4 linked regions of the Homo sapiens genome follow. The protein of the gene in region 2 purifies or fractionates together with the protein of the main gene of each other region. This does not show direct contact. Each region holds a gene or a part of one and is shown on either strand. Other genes may lie near its edges. The genes, in order: TLE3, STARD7, DOHH and KHDC4.

Evidence for each region.
Region 1: the proteins of STARD7 (region 2) and TLE3 purify together in Homo sapiens (affinity purification with mass spectrometry; 2 studies listed by BioGRID and IntAct, with this or other methods). This does not show direct contact.
Region 3: the proteins of STARD7 (region 2) and DOHH purify together in Homo sapiens (affinity purification with mass spectrometry; 2 studies listed by BioGRID and IntAct, with this or other methods). This does not show direct contact.
Region 4: the proteins of STARD7 (region 2) and KHDC4 purify together in Homo sapiens (affinity purification with mass spectrometry; 3 studies listed by BioGRID and IntAct, with this or other methods). This does not show direct contact.

What each region holds. Positions count from the first base shown.
Region 1 is NC_000015.10:70,047,279-70,052,942, forward strand, and holds the end of TLE3 (transducin-like enhancer protein 3), read right to left. Parts: intron 5,247-5,664; coding exon 5,096-5,246; intron 4,190-5,095; coding exon 4,113-4,189; intron 3,070-4,112; coding exon of another isoform or gene 3,007-3,069; exon of another isoform or gene 2,933-3,006; intron 2,927-2,932; coding exon 2,819-2,926; 3' UTR 512-2,818; downstream 1-511. UniProt on the Homo sapiens protein: Transcriptional corepressor that binds to a number of transcription factors. Inhibits the transcriptional activation mediated by CTNNB1 and TCF family members in Wnt signaling.
Region 2 is NC_000002.12:96,191,810-96,198,845, forward strand, and holds part of STARD7 (stAR-related lipid transfer protein 7, mitochondrial isoform 1 precursor), read right to left. Parts: intron 3,741-7,036; coding exon 3,532-3,740; intron 3,199-3,531; coding exon 3,149-3,198; intron 1,544-3,148; coding exon 1,433-1,543; intron 1,352-1,432; coding exon 1,269-1,351; intron 660-1,268; coding exon 560-659; intron 1-559. UniProt on the Homo sapiens protein: May play a protective role in mucosal tissues by preventing exaggerated allergic responses.
Region 3 is NC_000019.10:3,497,653-3,505,373, reverse strand, and holds the start of DOHH (deoxyhypusine hydroxylase), read left to right. Parts: upstream 1-4,699; 5' UTR 4,700-4,813; exon of another isoform or gene 4,814-5,439; intron 5,440-6,367; exon of another isoform or gene 6,368-6,635; intron 6,636-7,721. UniProt on the Homo sapiens protein: Catalyzes the hydroxylation of the N(6)-(4-aminobutyl)-L-lysine intermediate produced by deoxyhypusine synthase/DHPS on a critical lysine of the eukaryotic translation initiation factor 5A/eIF-5A.
Region 4 is NC_000001.11:155,924,414-155,931,413, forward strand, and holds part of KHDC4 (KH homology domain-containing protein 4), read right to left. Parts: intron 5,428-7,000; coding exon 5,299-5,427; intron 4,963-5,298; coding exon 4,883-4,962; intron 2,744-4,882; coding exon 2,691-2,743; intron 2,427-2,690; coding exon 2,263-2,426; intron 1,674-2,262; exon of another isoform or gene 1,545-1,673; intron 1,431-1,544; coding exon 1,219-1,430; intron 1-1,218.

The sequences.
Region 1 (5,664 bases), on a different chromosome or scaffold from region 2:
GCCTGAGAGGACCTCCCTCTCCAGCTAAATGACCCCTCTGTGTGGAGAGAGGCCAGTTGTCCCTTCTAGTCATAAAGACTGTGCTTTATGCTGAGACTGTCGTTCCTCTTTTTTTTTTTAAATGTGAGATTCCCTTTCTTGTATGAAATGACAGCAGGCAATTGTTTGTGCTGAGAATGACTTTGACAAAATAAGGAGTTGGAAACCATGTTAATCTCCAGTGCCCTGAGAGCTTTTGCTAATGGGTGCATGAAATCCAAGAGCCTGGGGACCGCCCCGGGAATGGGCACCAGCATTCTCCTCTTCCCGCCCAGCCCCCCGACTCCCTCCCTGGGGACAATGACCTGCATTTCTGGGTCTGCCTCTTCTGCAAATGCTTCCTTCTGTATCATCCAAAAACACACCTTTGTGACCTAGAGATTGAAGATCTCCTCGTCCCACCTAAACGTGTTAAGCTTAAAATAAAATTGTGCAGGTTTCCAAGGTCCAGATGTTCACAGACACTTTGCAGTTTCGCTTCAAGTTCATTACGTTTAATTTTTTTCCAAAAAAGTTTTGCATTGACAGCTGTACAATACTTTGGTGTTAACCTGTGGTCTTCCTTCACCTCAGTGAACTCTGCCCTGCCCATCTGTCCAGAGGAAGTCTTAGCTCCTACCCCCCACCCTCCCTGGCGCTTGGATGGGAGGCGACACAGTATGGGATTGTGAAATCCCTGCTGCGATGCTGGGTATCTGGAAGGGGAGAAGGGGGTGGAAGCAGCGCAGGGAATGCTGTGAGATGAGAAGAGCTCACATCGATGGGAAATGGCCCTGGCCCAGGCTCCAGAATGTGACAGCAACAGTGGCCTGGCTGTTTTCCCGGGGGGCGGGGGGCGGGACTGGCAAACTGGGGGGAGAGGCAATTAAGACGCAACAATCAAACCAACCTTTAAATAGTAACTTTTAAAAATATAAAAACAGTTCAGTACAATGACTTTTCATTCTTTTTTTCTTCGGGAATAACTTTCTTCTACCCTCACCCTCCCTTCTGGCTAGAGCCTTAACAAGAGGTGGCAGATGGACATCTGAGACCCAGAGAGACTCTGGACGCCCCACGCGCCCAGCCTTGGAGAGGCACAGGGTGTGTCGCCAGCCTCCACATCCCATGCCCGGTGCGCTCAGCTGGGGAGCAACCTCACTGAAGGTGGGTGGCTTTCCCTGGAGCCCCTCCCACCTCCTCAGCAGACGGAATCACACATTACAAAATAATCCATAAAAATGCAGTATAAAAATTATCTTCGATATGCTACATCCATGGAGAGCCTGCCACCAGGACTCACAGCGGCCTTTAGCTTTTCTTTAAAAGGAGAAAAAAAAAAAGACCAAAAGGAAAAAAAAAACAAACAAAAAAAACCCAACCCAAATCCTAACACCTCAGAACATGTTGGTACCAAAAGGTGGCACCTGCCAGAGGCGATAGTCTACCTAACCTGTTTGGGCCACAAGAGACTGCAATCTGCAAGAAATATCCACAGTGTGCCAGGATCTGTGTCCCCCTCTCCCACCCCCCAACCCCCACTGCTCTGCCCAGGGTGGGGGTGAGGGGGATCCTCTTTTCAGACTCACAACCCTGTAGGTTTATACACTTTCCCCCCTCTAAGGGGAGAGGAAGAGACTGTAGGCGGGAAGGGGGAGAAGGCATTTTATAAAAGGACATCACTTCTAATTCTTTTTATTCAAATTAAAAAAAAAAAAAAAGCACCCACATCAGTTGCTATTTTTCTCTGGTAGCTCCCTGAGCTGAGTTGCTATGCTGTCTTCTAACTTTTTGTCCTTTTTAGGCTGTGTCCCAAGATTCAGAAGAGCTGGAGAGGGAGTTCCTTTGAACTTCCATTGCTCACAACAATAACTAAGTGTGCACCAAAGAGAAAGACCAGGCTGAGGAGGAGAGAGGGAGAGACCAAGAAAGAGAGACACAGAGAGGGCAAGAGGCAGCCAGAGTGCAAGAGACCACAGAAAGCTCCATTTCTGCGGGTGTCCGCCTGGACGGGCCCCCATCTCAGTGCCTTCCATCCCTCAGTCTGGCCGGCTGGTTATCAGTCCGGATGCCCAGACCCGTGTGGAGGCACACGCATTCCAGCAGGCACCTTACGGCCAACCTGGTTGCCTTTTCCACACTCTAAGACTTTTCTCCTCTTTCTTCAATTGGTTCCCCTCCCTGTCTCCTCTTCCCAGGTGAGAGCATCTGTTTATTTAAAAAAAAAAAAAAAAAAAAGCCACCACCACGAGTGGATTACAAATACAGCAGGCGAAATACACACTCAGAGTTTCCGGTGGGAAGGGGCCTCCTCTCCCACTGATCAGTCCGCAATAGGAGTCTGTTATTTACATTTTTCACAAATCTTGTGCACTGCACAATCGGCAAAGAGAGACCCCCCCATCCCCCAGCACAACATTGTGGTCCACTCCAGCACCCCCGACCCAAGGTGAGGGACAGGGCAAAAGAAAAGGGAAGAACAAACAGAGACTCATGAGCGGGTCTGTGGGGGAACCGGAGCCATAAGCCTCCAATAAATCTATTTGTAGCAACTGCCAGCATTGTTCAGGGGGAGGAGGAGGAGCAGAACCCTTCCGAGTCTGTGAGACACATCAATCCAGGCCCAGGAGTCCAGACTGTGACGGGGCACGTGCCCTCTCAGCCGGCCGGAGCGCAGCCCTGAACGCTCGGCTGCCTGCGGCCCATCCTCCGCCATCCTCGGGGCCCCTCGCCTGGGGGTCTCCCTGTCAGAGCCGAGTCGGTTTCTCCCAGAGTTTGACAGCCCTGCTGGAGTTCTTGTTTAGTAGATGACCTCATAAACTGTGGCCTTCTTGTCACCAGAGCCTGTTACAATGTATTTGTCATCCGCTGAAATGTCACAACTCAAGACAGACGAGGATTCTTTAGACTGGAGGAGGAAGACGAGGAGAAGCAGCAGGAAGGCGTGGGGTGCAGGGAGAAAAAAGACAGGAATTCATTTTCCAGTGCTCAACACCATCTCGGTTCTCTCGGCAACAATTGCCCTCCTCTGCCCCTCTCTGATGCTCCGACCTGGAGCACAGTGCGGTGAAGAGGAGGTGGGGGAGGCTTTAAAGCACCCATGAAGCATTTTCAGGTAGAGCTCCCCTCCCACCTGCTTTTCCATAAGGAAAAGCTCAGTAACAGTCTCCCACGTGATCTTTACAGTAAGTCATAATGATCAGAACAGGACGCTTTAGCAAGAGCTTCTCCTCCGAGTTTACAAATAGGAAGAAGCATTTCCAAGCTAGGAGCTGGCGTCAGCAGCTCAGGCCCACAGCCTGATGAGTTAGGAAAAGGATTGCCACCTGATGTTTGAAGCATGTGCTGTAACTAGAGACCCTAACAATGAGGTTTGACACGCTGCACACCAGACATTTCAGCCTGGGTCCAGAAAGCGGCATGTTGGCTGAGGGAGTGAGAGAGAATGCAAGTGTGTGTGTGGAAGCGCAAGAGAGAGAGAGGAAGAAAGTGTGTGGGGGAGACCAAGTGTGCGTGAGTAAATGAGTGTGAGTTTGATCGTGTATGGGAAAGAGTGCACGTGTGTGTGTGCACACGTGTGTGTGCCAATCAGTGCAGTATGGCAGGCCCCAGATCCTGGTAGATTATAAAAAGCCTCTTCCTTTCCTCCTCTCTTTCCTGTCCATGTCCCTGCTGGTGCTGAATGCAGGTGGAAACACTCACTCACTTGAGGAGGCAACACTGCTCTGGGCAAGGCTGCCGGGTGCCCAGGTGCCCAGCGCACCTCCCGCAGGTGCTCAGCATCCAGCCCAGAGCAAAAACACTTATGCTATTCCTCACTCTCCAAATCCGACAAGCGCCCCGGCTTAGAAGCCCTTGCCCTCGGGGGTCAGAAGCCATCAGTAGCAGATTGTGTGTCCTGCTGAAGTCCCCAGGTCCTTGGGAGAACCCAATCTTGCTCCCCTATCAGGTAGGGGTGGGGAGGGGACCAGGGCAGGTCTGATCCTGGCTCCAGGCTCCTCCTGTTCTTCCTGCTGCTATCCTCACTCCCATCACCATCACCAAGTTTCAACTCTGGGTAGAACCCAGAGGAGGACTCAGACGGTGGGCAGTACCTGGAATATGCTGGCTCCATAAGGCGTCCTCCAGGCGTTGAGAAGGTTATCTTTCCCAGTGCTCACGAACCACTTGCCTGCAGGTGGGAGGCAAAGGCATGATCAGGTTGTAGCTCACTGCCCTCTAAAGCAAGACCTGCCCTAGACATGGCCAGCTGCCATAGAAAAGCAGTGAGAACTGCTAACTAGTATAACTCTCCAATTTCGAGAGGCATTTTGCAAATGGGACATGCGGACACCTGGAGAAGGCCTTTCTCTGAAATCCAGGGGGAGGGCTGGGCGGGGCTAGGATGGGAAAAGGTAGGATTTGAAGTTCATTGCAGTGATAACGCTGCCTCAAAAGATTCTTGTTAAAGCCACTAAGGTTGACTGGCCTTTCTAAATTCTACTACTGGAAGGCAACAGGAAATACTGAAAATATCCAAGCCCTGGGAGTCTGGAGACCTGGCTGAAGACAGCAGTCAGTGGGCGACCTTCCTCCAAGCAGGAACTCGGCCAGGGCTCTACAAGTGTTAAAGCCCTTATGCTCCCTGAAAGCCATGAGCACCATGCTATTCCCGACCAGAGAGAAAAATCCACTAGAGTTCAGAGAGGGTGAGATGTTCAAGACTGCACAGCTTGTCAGTGGAGGAGCAGACATTCCCATCCAAGGCTCTCAGATGCCAAAGCAAGTGGTTGTAACCATGGAGAGGAACTGCCTGCACTGCTACTGTCCTGTTCCTTTGCCCCAAGCCTGCAAGAACTGGCTCTGGCCTAGTGTCCTGAGAGTTCAATAACTCATGGTGACATCTGCATCCGAGAAACAAGGATGTGGAACAAGATCACTTAAGGGTGTTGAAGGGGCACCAGCTCAGGGGTCAGGAGGCCTGGTTCCAGGGCCTAGCTTATTCTATAAGCTTTGGGCCCCTCTTCTGTCCTGTTGGGCCAGGCTGCCCTGGGTTCCCCACCCCACTCCATCAGGCCTGGGCCCATCCAAGGCTCACCGCAGTAGGCGAACTTGAGGGAGAGCACGCAGCTCTCGTGCAGGTGCAGCTGGTACTTGTCAGGCTTGGTGTGGTGCAGCACCTCCACGTTGCTGCTCTCCATGCCCACAGCCAGCCACTCCCCAGTGGGGCAGTAGCCCAGCGAGAAGATCTGCAGGTGGTGGGAGGGCAGATGGACTGAGCTCAGCATTCTCTGCCCTCAAGAGGAGGGCGGCTCCCAAAGGTGCTGCTCAGGTCCTCTGAGGCTCAGGGTCCCTCCCCACCCACCCAATAACCCAGGAGTATGGGAGGTCATTTTCCATCCCCATTTTATAGGTGAGAAAGCACAGACATTTTGCATTCAGTTACTCTGTCTCTGAGACTTTCATCTTTCCTTAAGAAAAAAGTGAGTTAAAAAAAAAAAACTAAAATATTAAAAATTTAAGATTAAAATATTAAAGTGAGGAATGCAAATAAGAAATAATAATCCCTGGCATTTACTGAATGCTTTCTGTGAGTCGGGTTTATGGCTACGCCTTTTAGAGGGATCATTTCAGGTGCCCACATCAGACCTAGGAGGGTGCTACTAT
Region 2 (7,036 bases):
AAGTGGAACTAAAACCAGCAGCCACTAGCATCAATATCTATACTCTCAGTGGAGATTTAGCTTAAAAAGATAAAAAATAAACACAAAACACCTCATTAGGCTGAAATAAATATTCTTTTCAAAGAAAGGTCACAGAATTTTAAAGAAGGCAGACAGCATGAGTCCAATCTTCCCATTACTCTGGCAAGGAAGCAGAAATCCAGAAAAGTTTCCATCCAGTGCTCTGCCCACTGTAGTAAAATGTTGACAGGAGGTACTCGCTCTAGTTCCTGAAGAATGCTACTGATACAGGCTAATGCGTCAGTGGCTATGATTCTTTTAACTATCTCTCAGATAAGAGGGAACCAATGGATTGCCACTACTTTGTCCTTGGGGAACTTCCAGGTACATCACCTACGTCAGGAGTTCCCAAAAAATGGTTCCCAGACCAGTAGCATCAGACTCCCCCGAGCGAGAACTGTTCCTGCGCCACACCCCCTCCTCCCTAGTTCAGGTAAGACATCCCTTGAGAAAATTCCACAGCCATGACATGTTATCTCTTGGATGAGGTAAAACTCACCTCATCAAATGACTTGTGGGGACGGATAACCATTTGGGATTCATATGATCTGACCCTGACGAATTCTGGAGACTCTGGCACACTCGGATGCTCCACAGCACTGGTAAGGAGGAAAGGAGAAGCAAACTCTTAGTAATGTCTATATATAAAACAACAGGAGAGCTAAGTTAAGGGGAAGGCCTAAAAAGCTGGCTCTGATATTTTTAAATACACAAAACAAAGGAGTCACTAAGATGAATAAATACAAACTAAGTTCTAAAAATGAAGCGAAGGCCAGACGTGGTGGCTCATGCCTGTAATCCCAACACTGGGAAGCCAAGGAAGGAAGATCACTTGAGGCCAGGAGTCCAAGACCAGCCTGGACCACACTGTGAAACCCTGCGTCTACAACAAACAAATGAATTAATTAAAAATGAAGTGAGTTCCTTTGGTAATTTACGGCTCACTAGGCTGTGGGTCAAAAACAACAGCACTTCTTTTGATTACCAACATTAAAGAACCCAAAAAAACAGTTTAACTAAAAGCTTGTATCTCTCCATTCTTTCTAGACAGTCAGAGTCCCTCATCTTCTAGCTGGATGGAAGGGGCACTGGCTGCAGGGAAGCCTGTGGGAGACTCATAGGACACTAAGAATATACAAACTCAGGTACGTAGGAATGAAGGCCACAGCTAAAGGAACTCGGCAACAGCCACAGGCAGCCATACATACCGCGACACCAACACCATCATGTTGTTTTCCTGATCCACACTATACCGCCGAACATAAACATAATCCCGTGAGTACATTGGATACTAAAGAAATGGAGGAGCAGGATTAGTGTTCTGCATCACACAAACCTGGACAGAAATAAAATCAGAAGTAAAAATACTCACAGGAAAATGGGTTACCCAGTGAAGAACCTCGGAACCACTAACCACATCCCTCTCAATCACCTCCAGCTTGATTACCAGGGCATCCCATTTTTTTCTATACTCTGTGTCCAGCTGCAGAAAGAGAAAAGACCATGAATACCCAAGAAGACCCAAAACAAAAATGCAGAAAGCTTTCCAGATGCTTTGGTCTCTGATCCAAGAATCTTATTACAAGGAGAGAGTAATCTGACCTAACAGACAGTGCCAGAGTGTGAGAGACATGGCTGTGTTTACTACAGATGTTTCTTTCAAAATCACCTTATACAGGCTAATGTCATTACACTGAATGTGAATCTTCATTAGACAAACCAAGGAAAAGTGTAACAAAATATTTTAATAGACACATCTGGGGAAAATAATATATAGTGATATGAATGTGTAAGGGTAAGACAATTCTAAAAAGTTTTAAACAACAAAAAGTCCAAAAGTATTAAGTAGACACTTCACACACAAAAATGCAAGCAGCATATTTTTTTAAATTTCTGGCATCACTAGTAACTGAAGATTTTCAACTTAAGACAGATATACCATATACATAAAACCAACAAAAATTCACTACAAATTAACAAGATCCAGTACCTCAGGGAAAGTGCACTTGCACGTTAGAGTGAGTGTTATAACCAACGAAGTAGTTATCGGAAGTCAGCAAAACAAATGAAAAATCCAGAAAGAAAAAAATTTTGTTCTAGAACTCTGGGCGATCCCACCTCCCTGTTTCATTTTTTAAACCATCTTCCCCTACAAGGAGGAAAGCAGTCTTTGAACAGATACTCTTCATCTTTATGAAATAAACATTGGGCCAACACAGTGACTCACACCTGTAATCCCGGCACTTTGGGAGGCAAAGGCAGGAGGATCACTAGAGCCCAGGGAGTTCAAGACCAGCCTAGGAGACATAGGGAGACCCTGTCTCTAAGAAAAAAAAATTTTAATTAGCCAAGTGTGGTGGCGCATGCCTGTAGGCCTGGAAGCTGAGGTGGGAGGATCACTTGAGTCCAGGAAACAAAGGCTGCAGCAAGACATGATCACACCACTGTACTCCAGCCTGGGTAACACAGCAGGACCCTGTCTCAGGGAGAGGAAAGAAAAAAAAAAACCCTCCACTATGGAAATGTTCTTGATTTGAGGTTAAACAGATGTGACAACTAAATATAATCCTATCTGTACTGAAGTGGAAAATGCTATAAAGGACATTGAGTCAACTGATAAAACTGATAAATACAAACAGAGGACTACATGAAAGTGTTCCATCAGTGTTAAATTTACTAATTTCAATAATGGTATCATGATTAGTTAAGAAATACGGCATATGGCTAGTTTTAGGAAATACACACTGGAAGAATTTAGGAGTAAAGGACTATGATGTATGTAACTTACTCTTAAGTTGTTTGGGGAAAAAAACAATAAAGCCTCATAAAATACATTAAAGTATTCATATCCATTCCTCTATCTGATATTCCCAACAGTCCTGTGGGAGGGTAAAACTGATCTCATCCCCATGGGACAGATAAAGAAATTCTAAGTCAAATGTTTACCTAAATGCTATGCAATGTGGATGACAGGTAGATAGATGGATGTACTTAAGCCAATGTCACCTGAGTCAGATAAATGATTCATGTAGACAGTAGCAATTGATATGCTAGGAGGCTCCAAATCTGGAGAGAAAAATTAACTCACCTGAACATTGAAGAACTGCCGAGGTGTCACATCTGTGTAGGTTCCAAAAACTAGAATGAAAAGAAAGAATAAGGGATGCTGGCCATACTCCAGTCACTCGCCTTGTTTCTTTCACCTAGCGGCGTTTCAGATCTAAAGTACTAAGAGATCTTAAAGGCAGGTTCAGAAACTAGAAGTCTTAGTAGAGCAACAAAGAAAGACAAAGAGGATGTAAGCAAAGACAACACTGAGACATTTGTCATCTGGGAGAAGAAAAACAATAAACAAAAAACTACGGCAAATTTTCTGAGAAACAACCAGAACAGTTTAGAGAAGTATGAAGAACAGAAATCCCATGCACCTGTGCAACTATGGAACCCAAAAGATAGCCACACTGGGCTCACCTCGGTACTGGTAAAGGTGGGTGCCTGTAATTGGGCGCCGCCACAGCTTAAAGTGTTTCTTATCCATCACCATTTCCCAACGTTGCTCTTTGCCCTCTGAATCTTCATTCCCTTCTGTTTGGGCTTTTGGTTCTGGAGGGTGGTGCTGGACTCCAGAGCTCTGAAACATATTTGACATTTCTTCCAACCGCTTCATCTCATTAATAGATCTGTAAAGGGGAAAAAGAGCCATGGTGAGGTGGTTAGTCAGCCCTGTGAAATGAAGTGTCCACACAAAGGTCTGTGCAAGAAGGTTATACAGTAAACCACAGTATGTAGTATATAAACAGGACACAGTATAGTCAATAAAAACTGAGTTCCTGAGTTTGAATCTTAGTCCAACACTCACTAACTAGATTATTATTTAACCAGTTCCTATTTCTAAATCTATAAAATGGAAATAATAATAGTACCTATCTCGAGGTTGGCTATAAAGATTACAAAGTGTCAAGTGCTGCAGGGCGTGGTGGCTCACGACTGTAATCTCAACACTGGGAGGCAGAAGAGGGTGGATCACGAGGTCAGGAGCTCAAAACCAGCCTGATCAACATGGTGAAACCCTGTCTCTACTACAAACACAAAAATTAACCGGGCATGGTGGCGCGCAACTGTAATCCCAGCTACTCAGGAGGCTGAGGCAGGAGAATGACTTGAACCTGGGAGGCAGAGGTTGCAGTAAGCCGAGATCACGCCACTGCACTCTAGCCTGGGCGACAGAGTGAGACTCTTGTCTCAAAAAAAAAAAAAAAACAAAAAACAAAAAACAACGAAAAAAAAGTAAGTGTCAAGTGCTTAATATCTATGGCCAGGCACAGAGGCTCACTCCTGTAGTCCCAGCACTTTGGGAGGCCAAGGCAGGAGGACTCCTTGAGGCCAGGTTCAAGACTAACCTGGGAAACACAGTGAGACCCTACCTCTAAGAAAAAATTTAAAAAATTAGCCAGGCATAGTGGCACATGCCTGTACTCCAAGCTATAGGCTGAGATGGGAACATCACTTGAGCCCAGGAGTTGGAGGCTGTAGTGAGCTACAATTCTGCCACTGTACTCCAGTCTGGGCAATACAGTAAGACTCTGTCTCTTTTTTTTGTTTGTTTTTTTGAAACAGAGTCTCACTCTGTCACCCAGGCTAGAATAGAGTGCCATGATCTGGGCTCACTGCAACTTCCGCCTCCTGGGTTCAAGTATTTCTCCTGCCTCAGCCTCCCCAGTAGCTGGGACTACAGGCACGCGCTATCATGCCCGGCTGATTTTTTGTATTTTTAGCAGAGACAGGGTTTCACCGTGTTACCCAGGACGGTCTCAATCTCCTGACCTCATGATCTGCCCGCCTCGGCCTCCCAAAGTTCTGGGATTACAGGCGTAAACCACCGTGCCCAGCTACACTGTCTCTTAAAAAATAAAATAGGCTAGGCGCAGTGGCTCACGCCTGTAATCCCAATACTTTGGGAGGCTGAGGCAGGCGATCACCTGAGGTCAGGAGTTTGAGACCAGCCTAACCAACGTGGAGAAACCCTGTCTCTACTAAAAATACAAAATTAGCTGGGCACGGTGGCACATACCTGTAATCCCAGCTACTCGGGAGACTGAGGCAAGAGAATCGCTTGAACACGGGAGGCGGAGGTTGCAGGGAGCCAAGATCGTGCCATTGCACTCTAGCCTGGGCAACAAGAGCGAAACTCCGTCTCAAAATAAAATAAAATAAAATAAAATAAAATAAAATAAAATAAAATAAAATAAAATAAAGCCAAGCACAACGGCTCACGCCTGTAATCCCAGACTTTGGGAGGCCGAGGTGGGCGGATCACCTGAGGTCAGGAGTTCGAGACCGGCCTGGGAAACATGGTGAAACTCCATCTCTACTAAAAATACAAAAATTAGCTGGGCATGGTGGTGGACGCCTGTAATCCCAGCTACTCGGGAGGCTGAGGCAGAAGAATCACTTGAACCCAGGAGGCTGAGGGTGCAGTGAGCCAAGATCGCACCATTGCACTCCAGCCTGGGCAACAGAGTGAGACTCCATCTCTAAAATAAATAAAAAATAAAATAAAATAAAGTGTTTGTTATCTGGCACGTAAGTAGCCCTCAAATGTTAACTATGAAGGTTTATGGTTTTAAAATGTCAATTGATATCTTTTGTCCGTTTTTTATTGGGTTGTCTTATTATAAGTATGTATGTATTTTTCCCCTTTGTTTTTAAATTGATAAATTCACATACCATAAGATTCATTCTTTTACAGTGTACAATTCTGTACTTGTTAGTATATTCACAAGGTTGTGCAACCATCACCCCTAATTCCAGAACATTTTTATCACCCCCAAAAGAAACCTCTATCTATCATTAGTCACTTCCCATTCCTGCCTCCTCCCAGTCCTAGGCAGCCACTAATCTACTTTCTGTCTCTATGGAGTTGCCAATTCTGGACATTTCAAGTAAATGGAATCATATGATATGTAGCTTTTGTGTTGAGCTTCTTTCACTTAGCATACTTTCAAGTTCAACCATGCTGTACTTTATTCCTTTTTATAGCTGAATAATATTCCATTGTATGGATAGATCGCATTTTGTTTATCCATTCATCAAATAAAATTTGTTTCCACTATTTTATTATAGTGCTATTATAATAGCACTATATTATATTACTGCTATTATAATACTGCTGGCCGGACGTAGTGACTCATGCCTATAATCCTAGCACTTCGGGAGGCCAAGGTGGGTGGATCACTCTGAGGTTGAGTTCGAGACCCAGCCTGGCCAACATGGCAAAACCCCATTTCTACTAAAAATACAAAAATTAGCCAGGTGTGATGGCAGGAGCCTGGAATCCCAACTACTTGGGAGGCTGAGACAGGAGAATTGCTTGAACCCAGGAGGTGGAGGTTGCAGTGAGCCAAGATTGCACCACTTCACTCCAGCCTGGGCGAAAAGACAAAACTGTCTCAAAAAAAAAAAAAAGAATACTGCTATGGACATTTGTGTACAAATCTTCATATAGACATGTTTTCAATTCTCTTGGGTAGATTCCTAGGAGCAGATTTGATGGATCATGGTAACTATGCTTAACTTTTTAAGCAACTGCCAAAATGTTTTCCAAACAATTACACTATTTTATATTCACATCAGCAATGTTTGAGGATTCTAACTGCTCCACATCCTTGGTTCCAATTGCCCCACTTGTTATTGTCCATCTTTGTTATTCCAGCCAACTTAGTGGGTGTGAAATGGTATCTCATTGCGTCTTGACTGGTATTTCCCTAACCTTTTCATGTGCTTATACTAGTCTTGATAGTATCCTTTCATGCATAAAAGTTTTTAATTTTGATGTTTATTTTTTCTTTGATTGCTTGTTTTTGGTGTTATAGCCAAGAAACCACTGCCTAATCCAAGGTCATAAGAACTTATGCCTATATTTTCTTCTAAGAGTTTTAGAATTTTAGCTTACATTAGGTCTTTACCCCATTTCAAG
Region 3 (7,721 bases), on a different chromosome or scaffold from region 2:
CCCCGTCTCTACTAAAAATACGAAAAATTAGCCAAGCATCGTGGCAGGCGCCTGTAATCCCAGCTACTGGGGAGACTGAGGCAGGAGAATTGCTTGAACCCGGGAGGCAAAGGTTGCAGTGAGCCAAGATCGCACCATTGTACTCCAGCCTAGGCAACAGGGCAAGACTCAGTCTCAAAAAAAAAAAAAAAAAAAAAAAGGTTAAACATAGAATTGCCACATGACACAGCAGTAACACTCCTAGGTATCTACCCAAGAGAAACAAACATGTAACATCCACGCAAAAACTCACACACCTATGTGCATAGCAGCTTTATTCATAACATCCACAAAGTGCACACAACCCAAATGTACATCCACAGATGAAGGGAAAATGCTCCATTCATACAATGACACGGTGTTTTGCAATATGAGGCAATGAGGCTCGGACACAGGCTACAGATTGGATGAACCTCGAAAGCATCATGCCCAGTGAAAGAAGCCAGATACAAAAGACCACATAGTGAGTGATTCCATTGATACGAAATGTCCAGATAAGCAAATCCATAGAGACAGGAAGTGGATTAGTGGTTGCCAAGGGCTGGGAGAGGGGGATCAGGAGTGACTGGAATGGACTTTATTTTGGGGGGTTGATGGATATGTTCTAAAATTGATGTGATGGCCGTGAGCTGTGGCTCACACCTGTAATCCCAGCACTTTGGGAGGCTGAGGCGGGCAGATCACTTGAGGTCAGGAGTTCAAGATCAGCCTGGCCAATCTGGTGAAACCCCATCTCTACTAAAAATACAAAAATGAGCCGGGTGTGCTGGCGCGCACCTGTAGTCCCAGCTACTCGGGAGGCTGAAGCAGGGGAATCACTTGAACCCGGGAAGTGTAGGTTGCAGTGAGCCCAGATCATGCCACCACACTCCACCTTGGGTGTCAAAGCAAGACTCCGTCTCGGAAAAAAAAAAAAAAAATTTATGTGATGATGGCTGCCCGACTCTGAATATACTAAACACCACTGAATTATCACTTTACACAGATGAATTGTACAGTATGTAAACTATATCTCAATACAGCTGTTATTTAAAAAGTTCTTGCCCGGCGCAGTGGCTTGCGCCTATAATCCCAGTGCTTTGGGAGGCCAAGGAGGGCGGATTATGAAGTCAAGAGATCGAGACCATCCTGGTCAACATGGCGAAACCTCATCTCTACTAAAAATACAAAAATTAGCTGAGCGTGGTAGCACGCGCCTGTAATCCCAGCTTCTCGGGAGGCTGAGGCAGGAGAATCCCTTGAACCCGGGAGGCGGTGGTTGAAGTGAACCGAGATTGCACCACTGCACTCCAGAAAAAAAAAAAAAAATCCCCTTTGGAGCTGAGTTAAGGAGAAAAGAGAACAGGGAAAAGGAGGAGGCAAGAGGTTACAGTTTCAGATGCAGTGCTCGGGGATGCTCTTATTGCAAAGATGATGTTTTAATAAAGATCTGAAAGAGGAGCTGGGCGCAGTGACTAACGGCTGTAATCCCGGCACTTTGGTAGGCCGAGGTGGGCAGATTACTTGAGGTCAGGCCTTCAAGACCAGCCTGGCCAACATGGTGAAACCTCATCTCTACTAAAAATACAAAAATTAGCCGGGCATGGTAGCAGGCCCCTGTATTCCCAGCTACTCGGGAGGCTGAGGGAGGAGAATCGTTGGAACCCGGGAGGCAGAGGTTGCGGTGAGCTGAGATCGCGCCACTGCACTCCAGCCTGGGCAACACAGCAAGACTCTGTCTCAGAAGAATAAAATAAAAGGAGAGGAGAGGGAGATTCTAACACAGAAACACAGAGACAGACACACAGGGGTCAAGGCCAGGTGATGACAGTGGCAGAGATTGGAGTGACGAAGCCACAAGCTGAGAAACACCAAGGACTGGCGGCCACCCCCAGAAGCTGGAAGAGGCAGGAAGGATCCTCCCCTGGAGCCTCCAGAGAGGCCACAGATCTGCAGATACCTGGATTCCAGACTTCCGCCCCCCAGGGACTTGCTCAATCCCAGAGGACCCACCGAACAGAAGACGCAGACTTGGTTCTTCTGTGCTATCAGTTTCTCGAAGGTCTACAGAGGCCAGATGCCAAGTTCTCTGACTTACACAGGCCTTGCTTTTGGCTGAGGCTTCGATATCTGCGTCCTGCACCCTGGGATTATCTCCTCCTGGGGAGCATCCTTGGGGCCAGTCACACCTGGCACCCTGCCCTCGTAGCCTTCCTGAGTCAGCACAGCTCCTGGTCCACGGGAAGTCCTCCGTAAACAGCCTGAGCCACAAACATGTTGAGATGACGTCCTCGCAAGGCAGCTGAGGGCTGCAGTGATGCCTGTTATCTGCAGTCAGTTTTCCAACACATAGGAAGGCAATACAATAATTTAAAAAAAAAAAGGGGGGGTGGGCCGTGCACGGTGGCTCACGCCTGTAATCCCAGCACTTTGGGAGGCCGAGGCGGGCGGATCACGAGGTCAGGAGATCGAGACCATCCTGGCTAACACGGTGAAACCCCGTCTCTACTAAAAATACAAAAAAATTAGCTGGGCTTGGTGGTGGGCACCTGTCGTCCCAGCTACTTGGGAGGCTGAGGCAGGAGAATGGCGTGAACCCAGGAGGCGGAGCTTGCAGTGAGCTGAGATCGCCCCATTGCACTCCAGCCTGGGTGACAGAGCGAGACTCTGTCTCAAAAAAATAAAAGTGGGGGTGTCAGCTCCATGAGGCCAGACACTGTGTCTGTTTTGTCCTGTGTCCTCTGTGCCCAGGACACTATCCTCTGTGCTCAGGACACTGTCCAGCACACAGTAGTTGCTCAATAAGTATTTGTGAATGTTGTCTTAAAATAGAAGTTGGCCTTCCAAAAGGATTTCTTTGCTATGCACAGCATTTTATGTTTTTTCATTAATTTTTATTTAATTATTTTTTTGAGATGGAGTCTCACTCTGTCACCCAAGCTGGAGTGCAGTGACGCGATCTTGGCTCACTGCAACTTCCGTCTCCTGGGTTCAAGTGATGCTCCTGCCTCAGACTCCTGAGTAGCTGGAATTACAGGCACCCGCCACTAGGCCAAGCTAATTTTAGTATTTTTAGTAGAGATGGGGTTTCAGCATGTTGGCCATGCTGGTCTTGAACTCCTGACCACAAGTGATCCACCTGCCTTGGCCTCCCAAAGTGCTGGAATTACAGGCGTGAGCTACAATGCCCAGCCATGTTTTTTTATTAATTGCTCATTTTTTTTTTTTTTTTGAGATGGGGTCTTGCTCTGTCACCCAGGCTGGAATCCAGTGGTGTGATTACAGCTCACTGGATCCTTGAACTCCTGGACTCAAGCTATCAAGCCACCTGAGTAGCTGGGCCTACAGGCATGAGCCACCAGGCACAGTTGATTTTTTTTTTTTTTTTTTGGAAATGGAGTCTTGCTCTGTTGCCCAGGCTGGAGTGCAGTGACAGGATCTCAACTCACTGTAACCTGTGTCTCCCAGGCTCAAGCGATTCTCCTGCCTCAGCCACCCAAGTAGCTGGGATTACAGGCTGAGCCACTGCGCCCAGCCAAATTAAAAAAAATTTTTTTTCTGTTGAGACGGGGGCTTACCACATTGCCCAGGCTGGTCTTGGAATCTTGGGCTCAATCGATCATCCTCTCACCCCACAGCCTCCCAAAGTGCCAGGATTACAGGTATGAGCCACCACTCCTGGCAGTCACCCACATTTTAAAAATAAGAGATTGCAAGCAGGGCACAGTAGCTCACGCCTGTAATCCCAGCACTTTGGGAGGCCAAGGCAGGTGGATCACCTGAGGTCAGGAGTTTGAGACCAGCCTGGCCAACATAGTGAAACCCTGTCTCTACTAAAAATACAAAAAGTTAGCTGGTGTGGTGTTGCATGCCTGTAATCCCAGCTACTCGGGAAGCTGAAGCCTTTTTGTATTTTTAGTAGAGATGGGGGTTTCACCATGTTGGCCAGGCTGGTCTCGAACTCCTGACCTCAAGTGATAACACCCACCTCGGCCTCCCAAAGTGTTGGGATTACCGGTGTGAGCCACCGTACCCGGCCTCTTTCAGGTCTTTCTTCAGATGTCACCACCTCAGATTCTGGCCACCCTTCCTGAAACTGCACACCCTATACATACACCGCCCTTGGCTACCGAATTTTTTCTCGTTAGCCTTTTTCACCATCTAATAGGTATTGCATTTACTTATCGTGTTATTTTCTGTCTCTATAACAACACTGGGAGGCGTACGAGGGTAAGGGCTGAAGGCTCTCTTGTCCTCAAGGCCATGTACTATTTATTACATACATGAATGAATGAACGACTGCATTTCTTCCTTTTTTTATTCCTCACCTACTTAAGGTTCGAGCTCCCTGAGCCCATTGGCCAACACCTCTGGAGTCTGACCACGCCTAGAAACACTGCGCATGCTCCGTTGCTAGCCAGCCCAGGCAGGGCGCTGAATCGGCACAAACCAGTCTCACTTCTTGTACCGCAGTGGGGAGGTTGGAGAGAATTTTTTCCCATGAAAGGGCATACGTTGCCCGTCCCCTTCCCCGAAGAACGCACTAGGAATACTGTTCCTGCGTTTGCATGAGCTGTGGCACCAGCACCGACTCAGCCTTCCGGGCCTCCCTCATGCACGGAGCCTCTCACTAGGTCTCACCCGCGGCTGCGTTGGTGCCGTCCGGCACGGTCACGTGGGCGAGAAAATGGCGGCCCCCAGACCGCACTGCGGGCGTCGCGGCAGGTGAAGCGGTGGTGGCAGAGGCGCCTGCGGTTACTGGCCGGGCCGACGGGTCCTGAGTCTCCAGAGCTCGGTGAGGCGTCCCGGAGGCGGCGATCACGGTGTGGGGCCCGGGTCTGGCGGGCGGTGGCACCGGGAGCGCCTCGTTAGGGAATCCGGTCTCAGGGATTCGTTGACTGTGGATGGGGCGGGTTAAGGGGTCTCGAGTCCCGGCGATCTCTTTCCTCTGGGATTTTTTACATGAAAGAGTGCCCACCTCACGTCCTGAAGCTCCTATGTCGTACGGTTGGGTCTCAATGGTCCCCAGTGCCCTGCCAGCTCGCACAGGCCTGCCCTCTGGTTTCTGATGACCCCTCTTTAAAGGTGTCACTCTCCTTTGATGGTCACCTGTGCTTAGGTGGCTACACTGCCCTCGTCAAGCCCAGGCAGCCTTGCTGACGCCACTGTTCACCAGAGAGGGCTGCCAGCATGCCATAGCCAGCCTGTCTTGAGATGAAGCATCCGCCAGGTTCTCAGCCGATCTGGAAAGAGAGGGGTCCCTTCTCCCCTTGGCTGTGTTCTTTTATCCTAAGTCATTCAACAAAGCGTTGGTGGTTTAGAGCCCGACTCTGGAGCCAGACTTCCTGGATTCCTAACTCTTCACGCTGCTCCCAAGCAAGTTCCCAAGCACAGTCCCAAACTGTGCCTCAGTTTCCTCACCTGTAAAATGGGGACAATCTTAGTAACTACCTCACAGGGTAGTGATGTAGATCGAATGAATTAATGAATGTAAAGAGCATGGAGTGCCTGGCGCGTAGCAAATGCTACATAAGTGTCAGCTGCTATTGTCACGGTTGTCGTTTTTATTTTATTTATTTATTTTGAGACAGGGTCTTGCTTTGTAGCTCAGTCTGGAATGCAATGGCACGATCTCGGCTCACTGCAACCTCCGCCTCTCGAGTTCAGGCGATTCTCCTACCTCAGCCTCCCGAGTAGCTGGGATTACAGGCGCCCACCACCACGCCCAGCTAATTTTTGTATTTTTAGTAGAGATGGGGTTTCACCATGTTGGTCAGCTGGTCTCGAACTCCTGAACTCAGATGGTCTGTCCACCTCGGCCTCCCAAAGCGCTGGGATTACAGGCGTGAGCCACCGCGCCCAGCCGGTTATTGTTTTTATTGAGGCCCTACTGCGTGCAGGTCATTGCACTAAGTGCTGGGAATACAACAGTGACCAAGATAGACTCAGTCCCAGCCTTCAGAGTTCTATTCTAATGAGGGATAAGACCAATCACAAGCAACTAAACCAATACTTTCCAATATGATATCTAGGAGTCTTAGGCGCCGTGGAGAAAAATAAAGCTGAATAAGTGAAAAGAGATGGAAGAGTAACATTGTCCATTGTGATCAGGGAAGGCTTCCATGAGGAAGTGATGTTGGAGACCCAGGAAAGCAAGAGGATGAGCACGGGTGTTCCTGGACCAAACTGAGGGTCGGGCTGCTATTTCTCATGGTCCAATAACGAGATGCAGATTAACTGGGGAGGAAGAGAGTTTTTATTTCTGTAACCGGTTACAGGGAGAAGGCCTGGAAAATATCGCCAGACCAACTCAAAATGACAAAGTTTTCCAGAGCTTATATACCCTCTAAGCTCTCCATCTACATGTAACTGAGCATCCATCTAAAGACTTAAAGTGACTAACTTCTTTTAATCTATAACTAAGATCTGAATCCTGAAGACTTTCCTTTGGAACCTCAGTAAATTTACTTAATCTAAATGGGTCCAGGTGCTGGGGTGATCACCCTTATCTCATCTCCAGTGGGTCCAGGTGCTGGGGTGATCATCCTTATCTTGTCTCCTGCTAAATCATGGAGGTTTGGGGAGTTCTTCAGACACCCAGTAAAACTTGTTTCATCCTAAACGGGTCACATTAAGAATTCCTTCGTTATTGGCTGGGTGTGGTGGCTCAAGCCTGTAATTCCAGCAGTTTGGGAGGCTGAGGCGGGTGGATCACCTGAGGTTGGGAGTTCGAGACCAGCCTGACCAACATGGAGAAACCCTGTCTCTACTAAAAATACAAAATTAGCCGGGCATGGTGGTGCATGCCTATAATCCCAGATACTCGGGAGGCTGAGGCAGGAGAATCACTTGAACCCTGGAAGCATAGGTTGTGGTGAGCCGAGATAATGCCACTACACTCCAGCCTGGGCAAAAGAGCGAAACTCTGTCTCAAAAAAAAAAAAATTCCTTCATTATCTTGTCATGCCTTAAGGCCCAGGAAAGGCCTGGGCAAAACTCTTCATGGGCTTTTGTTACATTCCAGCCTTTGTATGAGGGCACTGGCTCTTTTAGCTTTTAATGTTTAACTTAACCACTCAGTCAGTGCTGAAACAGTTATGGAGGCCTGTGTTAGTGAGGCCTGGCCTGCTACGTGGGGACATCTAGGGAAGAATGTTCCTCATGGAGATCACAGCAAATGCAAAGGCCCTAGGGCTGCACTGGGCCTGGCGTGTTGGAGGAACAGCGAGGAGGCCTGTGTGGCTGGAGTGGAGCTAGAGAGGGAAGAGGTGATGGGAGATGGTCATGAAGGGCCTTTGGGACTGTCAAGTAGTTGAGTGAGGAGGCATAGGAGGATTTTAAGCAAGGGAGTGATATGGTCCAGTTTACATATTGAAAGTACTTCTGAATCTGTTATCTAAGCTGTGTAACAAAAATCCCCATAATGGCTGGGGGTAGTGGCTGATGCCTGTAATCCTAATGCTTTGGGAGGCTGAGGCAGGATGATCACTTGAGCTTGGGAGTTGGAGACCAGCCTGGGCAACATAGAAGTGAGACCCCATCTCTACAAATAATAAAAAAAAAATTAGCTGGGCATGCTGGTGTGTGCCTGTAGACACAGCCACTAGGAAGTCTGAGGCAGGAGGATCACTTGAGACTGGGAGTTCGAGGCTACAGTGAGCCGTGATCATGCTGCCGTACTCCAGCCTGGCGACAGAACAAGA
Region 4 (7,000 bases), on a different chromosome or scaffold from region 2:
GTATTAGCCAGGATGGTCTCAATCTCCTGACCTGATTCATCCGCCTCGGCCCTGAAAGTGCTGGGATTACAGGCCAAGATTCACTTTTGTACAGACTTGTACAAAACCAAAGGACTTGAATACTAAAGAGATAATTCCGTCTCCTAATTCAATAATTTCTCTTTTTTTTTTTTTTTTTGAGATGGAGTCTTGCTCTGTTGCCCAGGCTGGAGTGCAATGGAGCAGTCTCAGCTCACTGCAACCTCCGCCTCCAGGGTTCAAGCAATTCTCCTACCTCAGCCTGCTGAATAGCTGGGATTATAGGTGCCTGCCACCACACCTGGCTAATTTTTATACTTTTAGGAGAGTCAGGGTTTCACCATGTTGGCCAGGGTAGTCTCGAACTCCTGACCTCAAGTGATCCGCCTGCCTCGGCCTCCCAAAGTGCTGGGATTACAGGTGTGAGCCACCGCACCTGGTTTTTTTTTTAAGACAGGGTCTCACTCAGTCACCCAGTCTGGAGTGCAGTGGTGCAAACACAGCTACCTGCAGCCTTAATCTCCTGGGCTCAAGCCATCCTCCTGCCTCAGCCTACTGAGCAGCTGGGATTAAGGTGTACACCATAACACCTGGCTAATTTTTTTTTTTTTTTGAGATGGAGTCTCGCTCTGTCACCCAGGCTGGAGTGCAGTGGCGCAATCTCAGCTCACTGCAAGCTCCACCTCCCGGGTTCACGCCATTCTCCTGCCTCAGCCTCCTGAGTAGCTGGGACTACAGGCGCCTGCCACCACACCCGGCTAATTTTTTTTGTTTTATTTTTAGTAGAGACGGGGTTTCACCTTGTTAGCCAGGATGGTCTCGATCTCCTGACCTCGTGATCCACCCGCCTCGGCCTCCCAAAGTGCTGGGATTACAGGTGTGAGCCACCGTGCCCGCCTAATTTTTAAAATTTTTTTGGAGAGATGGGGTTTTGCTATGTTGCCCAGGCTGGCCTCAAACTCCTGGGCTCAAGTGGTCCTACGCCTTGGCCTCCAGAAGTGTTGGGATTACAGGCATGAGCCACCGTGCCCCAATTCTACAATTTCTTTAACTAATTATAAAGTAATTACTCCTAGCATTTATCTAAATCCCTCATTACTATTAATTACACCCAGTTTTCTCTTGCTCCTTCTGAATCACTCCTGACTGTACCAACAAGTTGACAAGAATTCACATGTCCCCTGCCCTATCCATCCATACCTGATGTAAATATACATAGGTTCAAAAGCTTCTCGGCCAGATGCTGGCTCAATGCAGCCTGAACCTTTGCCCCGCAGGAAGACTTTGGCACCTGTTTCAATCTGAATGTGCTGCAAATAGGAGCAGCCTGGACCTTCCACCTTCTCCTTGACATTAAAAGTGGGTACAGCATGTTCTAGACCCACAAATAATTTATCTTGAACATAATGCATCTGTAGGAAGAACAGAATACTTCAGATTAAACAGAATATATAATTAAATCCTCAATCTTTGAAATAAGTCAATAAGAAATTATAGCAAAGACAGTCTCCTGTAAAACTGGGGTAGAGTGTTGGGTAGTACAGTCAGCCCTGTGATACTCTTCAGTGAAGGCTGCTCTCTCCAACCCTTTTTTCTAGGAGGAATGTATCAGCAAAGTCTTACTTCATCAGACTCAGCCTTCTTAGTCCTCCAGTTGTCATCAAGTTTACAAATACAAATTAAAACCACTAACTTCAAAATGTACAACATGTATACCTTCTGCTCTATCAATCTCCTTTCTAGAATATATCAATATGAAGAAATGTGTGATCAGGTGTTCATTATACCGTGGAGAGCTGGATAACACACAAACAGAATACCTATGGCAGGTAACTTTCGGGATTGGAATTTGGAATTTCACGATTTTTTTTTCTTTGTATGTATTACTTGGCACTTTTTTTTTTTTTTTTTTTTTTGAGATGGAGTCTTGCTCTGTGGCCCAGGCTGGAGTGCAGTGGCATGGTCTCAGCTCCCTGCAACCTCCACCTCCCGGCTTCAAGCAATTCTCCTGCCTCAGCCTCCCAAGTAGCTGGGGTTACAGGTGCCTGCCACCATGCCCGGGTAATGTTCGTGACGGGGTTTCACCACGTTGGTCAGGCTGGTCCAAATTCCTGACCTCAAATGATCCACCCACCTTGGCCTCCCAAAGTGCTGGGATTACAGGAATGAGCCACTGTGCCTGGCCAGCACATATCATTTTTATAGAAATGATAATGCTATTAACGATCCCTCCCCAAAACATACCCCTGACTGGAAGGGAGGCTTCTGGCTAACAGCTGGAGACAACTGAGCGATGGGTGCTGGCTGGTGATAGACAGTTACTGTTGCACCATTAAAAGTTGGACTTGTTCCTGTGGCAGCTTTTACCACTCCATTGGTGATAATTTCTTTGATCCGGTTTACAGCTCCTTAGAAAAACACAGACAGTAAAACTGAATGGAATGAACTGACTAGTGCCCAGGCAGGCCAGTGTTCAATTATTCACCGTAAATCTGCTTTATACGTTACCCAAATATGTGGCTCTCCATCCCTCTAAACTCCCATACAAATTCGTGTATAGTTCATGAACAAGGGTTAGAACAGCCATCAGGGACACTTTGCCAACTTGCTATACAGAGCCCTGTACTTTGCTCTTCACAAAAAGTGCTACGTGAGCCAAAAACATTACTTACTGTCCACTAATTCCCGTGTCTGGCCCTGAACATGAAGATATAATGGACGATCCCTATAAAGAGAAACAAAAAAGGATGATCTCAATGTGGTCAAAACCAAAAAAGGAGTCAAATGGGTCACCAGATCTAATTTGTAATGTTTCAAGTTTCCAAATAACCAAAAGGGACTATATACATTAGAAGGGTTTTTGCTAGCTAATGTCTCAGAACATGCTTTAACAGCTGGGGAACAAATAAACTTCTTGATTTTAAAAGTCAACTGGCCCACAGAGTTCAGATCAAATCTGTTCTTATGGATTCACTACCATTATTTTCCAGTCTATTGAGATAACCCAATATTTAAGAACAGAATTCCTTTTTGCTGGTTGTCTAATAGGTTATAAACAAATGTGGTCTCGTCTATCCAAATCAATGGGGCAAGCTGGGTGCTGTGGCTCATGTCTGTAATCCCAGCACTTTGGGAGGCTGAGGTGGGTGGATGACATGAGGCCAAGAGTTTGAGACCAGCCTGGCCAACATGGCAAAACCCCATCTCTACTGAAATTACAAAAATTAGCCGGGCATGGTGGCACGCCTGTAGTCCCAGCTACTCAGGAGGCTGAGGCACAAGAATCACTTGAACCCAGGAGGTGGAGGTTGCAATGACCCAAGATCATGCCATTGCACACCAGCCGGGGCAACAGAACAAGACTCTGTCTCCAAAAAAAAAAAAAAAAAAAAAAAAAAAACCACACACACACACACACACACACACACACACACACACACACAAAATTAATGGGGAAAGATTGATCATGCATATAGAGAAACCTCTTAAGGTCTACATCAACTGATAATTTAGATTCTAAATGTGAAGAGGACTTAAATTATAATAAAGTGATCAATAACCATATATAGTTAATAAAAAGTAGCAGGTAAAAATAACTTTTTAAAGACAAAGTTCAAAACAGCAATCAACACATATAGAAAGTTTAAATACATTCTTGGGGCTGGGCACGGTGGCTCATGCCTGTAATCCCAGCACTTTGGGAGGCCGAGGCAGGGGAACCACCCGAGGTCAGGACTTTTGAGACCAGCCTGTCCAACATCGTGAAACCCCATCTCTACTAAAAATACAAAATTTAGCCGGGTGTGGTGGCGCATGCTTGTAATCCCAGCTACTCGGGAGGGTGAGGCCAGAGAATTGCTTGAACCCAGGAGGCAGAGGTTGCAGTGAGCCGAGATGGCGCCATTGCACTCCAGCCTGGGCAACAAGAGCAAAAACTCCTTCTCTAATAAATAAATAAATAAATAAATTCTTGGCTTGGGGTAGGAATTAAATTTTGCCACCTTATTTTGTGTAGTTTAAGCTAATGTTAAAAATGTTGCATTCCCTAAGTACCTATCAACTGACAGTGAAGAGAAACTCAAACACGGAATGATGGAAGGAATAAAATGAAACAGATTAAGTCTTTACCTGAATAATCACAAACTATAACCATCATAAAGACAAAAAAAAAAAAAAAAAAAAAGAGCCCATTTGTGAGGGGAACTATTTCCACAGAAAAAAGTTAAGAAGTATATACAATGCCGGGCGTGGTGGCTCACGCCTGTAATCCCAGCACTTTGGGAGGCCGAGGGGGGTGGATCACAAGGTCAGGAGATCAAGACCATCCTGGCTAACACGGTGAAGCTCTGTCTCTACTAAAAATACAAAAAATTAGCCAGGCGTGGTGGCAGGTGCCTGTAGTCCCAGCTACTCGGGAGGCTGAGGTAGGAGAATGGCATGAACCCAGGAGGCAGAGTTTGAAGTGAGCCGAGATCACGCCACTGCACTATAGCCTGGGCGACAGAGCAAGACTCCATCTCAAAAAAAAAAAAAAAAAGTATATACATTATTTCTGCAGATCATATGGAACAGAAAGAAGAAAAAAGAGTATATACATTAAATGTTAGTGGTTAGTATCTTCTTTTACACTTTCCTATAATTTGTTTCCTCCAATAAAAACATTAAATGTGAAATAAAAGTCCAAAAACAGGTCCCAACATCTTGTATCTGTTTGATATCCAGAATTCTGCTATAGTGTGCACACACATACCCCTCAAACCTTGAATCAAATATTGTGTACACGTATTACCTAAGGATAAAAAACATGAGGCTAACGTGAGTCATACACCCAACCCTTCCATAAACAAGATAAGAGAATACGCACCCTGGTCCCACTTTGGCTTTTTCCTCAGTTGTCATGAACCTCCCTCGAGTTGATACTGCAGCCCCACTAAGTCGGCTGATCTAAAAAAGGAAATGTTCAATTAAAAAAATGTGGCAATTGGTTGATTTCAATGGCAGACAGATTTTCTTCCCATTCATTCATTCAACCAAGTAAAGAAGGAAAGAATTCTCTCCTGTATCTGAAATTTTGATTCCATGGTTTCTTACTCAAACCAACCCAGAGAATTCATTTATATCCATTCCATTATCTTCCTCTGAAGTTAAATTAAACCCAATCCTGACTTTAGAGACTATGACCCAAACCCACTAATAAATATCTGACGCCTGTCTATTTAGAGGTCTTCTTTATCTGAATCCACTCACCGCCCTCCCCAAAGAGTCTCAATGCCTCCTCACCTCGTCTTGAGTCTGTCCTCGAGTCAGCAAGTTCCTACATGTGAGAGGCACATCATTAATTTCTACTTCAGCTACCACCAGGTCATCCTTGCTTTTATTGCTAGTTAGGCCTTTGCCAGGAGCCTGAAGCTAGAAAAAAGAGAAATTAGATTAAAAAGTTTTTATGATGAGATAAAGTCTATTTTTTTATTTTATTTATTTACTTATTTATTTTTTCATTTTTTTGAGATGGAGTCTGTCGCCCAGGATGGAGTGCAGTGGCGTGATCTCAGCTCACTGCAACTTCCGCCTCCTGGGTTCAAGCAATTCTCCTGCCTCAGCCTCCTGAGTAGCTGGGATTACAGGTGTGCAGCACCATGCCCAGCTAATTTTCGGATTTTTAGTAGAGACGGGGTTTCACCGTGTTGGCCAGGCTGGTCTCGAACTCCTGACCTCAGGTGATCCACCTACCTCGGCCTCCCAAAGTGCTGGGATTACAGGCGTGAGCCACTGTGCCCAGCTGAGATAAAGCCTTTTAGTCATCCAATGTACAACTATCCTTTCCCAAGTCCCACACCTCCCTACCCTTCCCTTCATCTGCCTGTAAACACAGTTGGTCATTCTTCATAAACGAATTAACAAGCAAACAAAAATCTCACTAAAATGACATTAAATAAAGTCAATAATAAAGTCAATCTGCTTGAAGGCCACAATCAAGATTTCTCTGTGACCTTGGCCCTATGTGCATTTTTATGACCACCTAATTACAGAAGCTCTAGGGACTAGAAGCTACAACCTTCAAAAAGAAAATTAAAGGGCCAAGTTATGATACTCTATAGCTCAGTTAGTTGGCTGTACATGGAGTAAAACACAATAGAAGGTAGAGGAGCAATGCCTACAATACATATACCTCATGCATACAATAGGAAGTTGTCTTTGTGCCACTCCTATAATCCTAACATAAAATCCAACTAACTCCATCCTTGTAAAGCTCTCAAAAACCCTTAAATTGTATCTAACTAATAATTCCTCACTCTATTACAGCAGAACAAAGAAGAATGAAAAAACAGTAAGATGGTAAAACCTGATCCGGTTTCTTTCAATTTAAACTACATGGAGTTTGTGATCAGCCTGGTCAACATGGTGAAACCCCGTCTCTAGTAAACATACAAAATTAGCCAGGTGTGGTGGTTCGTGCCTGTAATCCCAGCTACTCCGGAGGCTCAGGCAGAATTGCTTGAAGCCGGGAGGCAGAGGTTGCAATGAGCCGAGATCACGCCATCGCACTCCAGCCTGGGCAACAAGAGCAAAACTCTGTCTCAAAAATAAATATATAAATTACAAAAAAAGGCTGGGACCGGTGGCTCACATCTGTAATCCTAGCACTTTAGGAGGCTGAGGAGGGTGGATCGCTTGAGCCCAAGAGTTTCAGACCAGCCTGGGTAACATGGCAAAACCACATCTCTAAAAAAATACAAAACATTAGCTGGGCACGGTGGCATGAGACTGTAGTCTCAGCTACTCAGCAGGCTGAGGCAGCAGAAAGCAGTGATTGTGCCACTGAACTCCAGCCTGGGCAACAAAGCAAGACTCTATCACCAAAAAAAAAAAAAAAAAAGACAGAAAGACAGAAAGAAAGAAAGAAAGAATGAACGAAGGAACCAAACAGGCTCATGCCTGTAATCCCAGCACTTTGGGAGGCTGAAGCAGGGTGGGCAACATG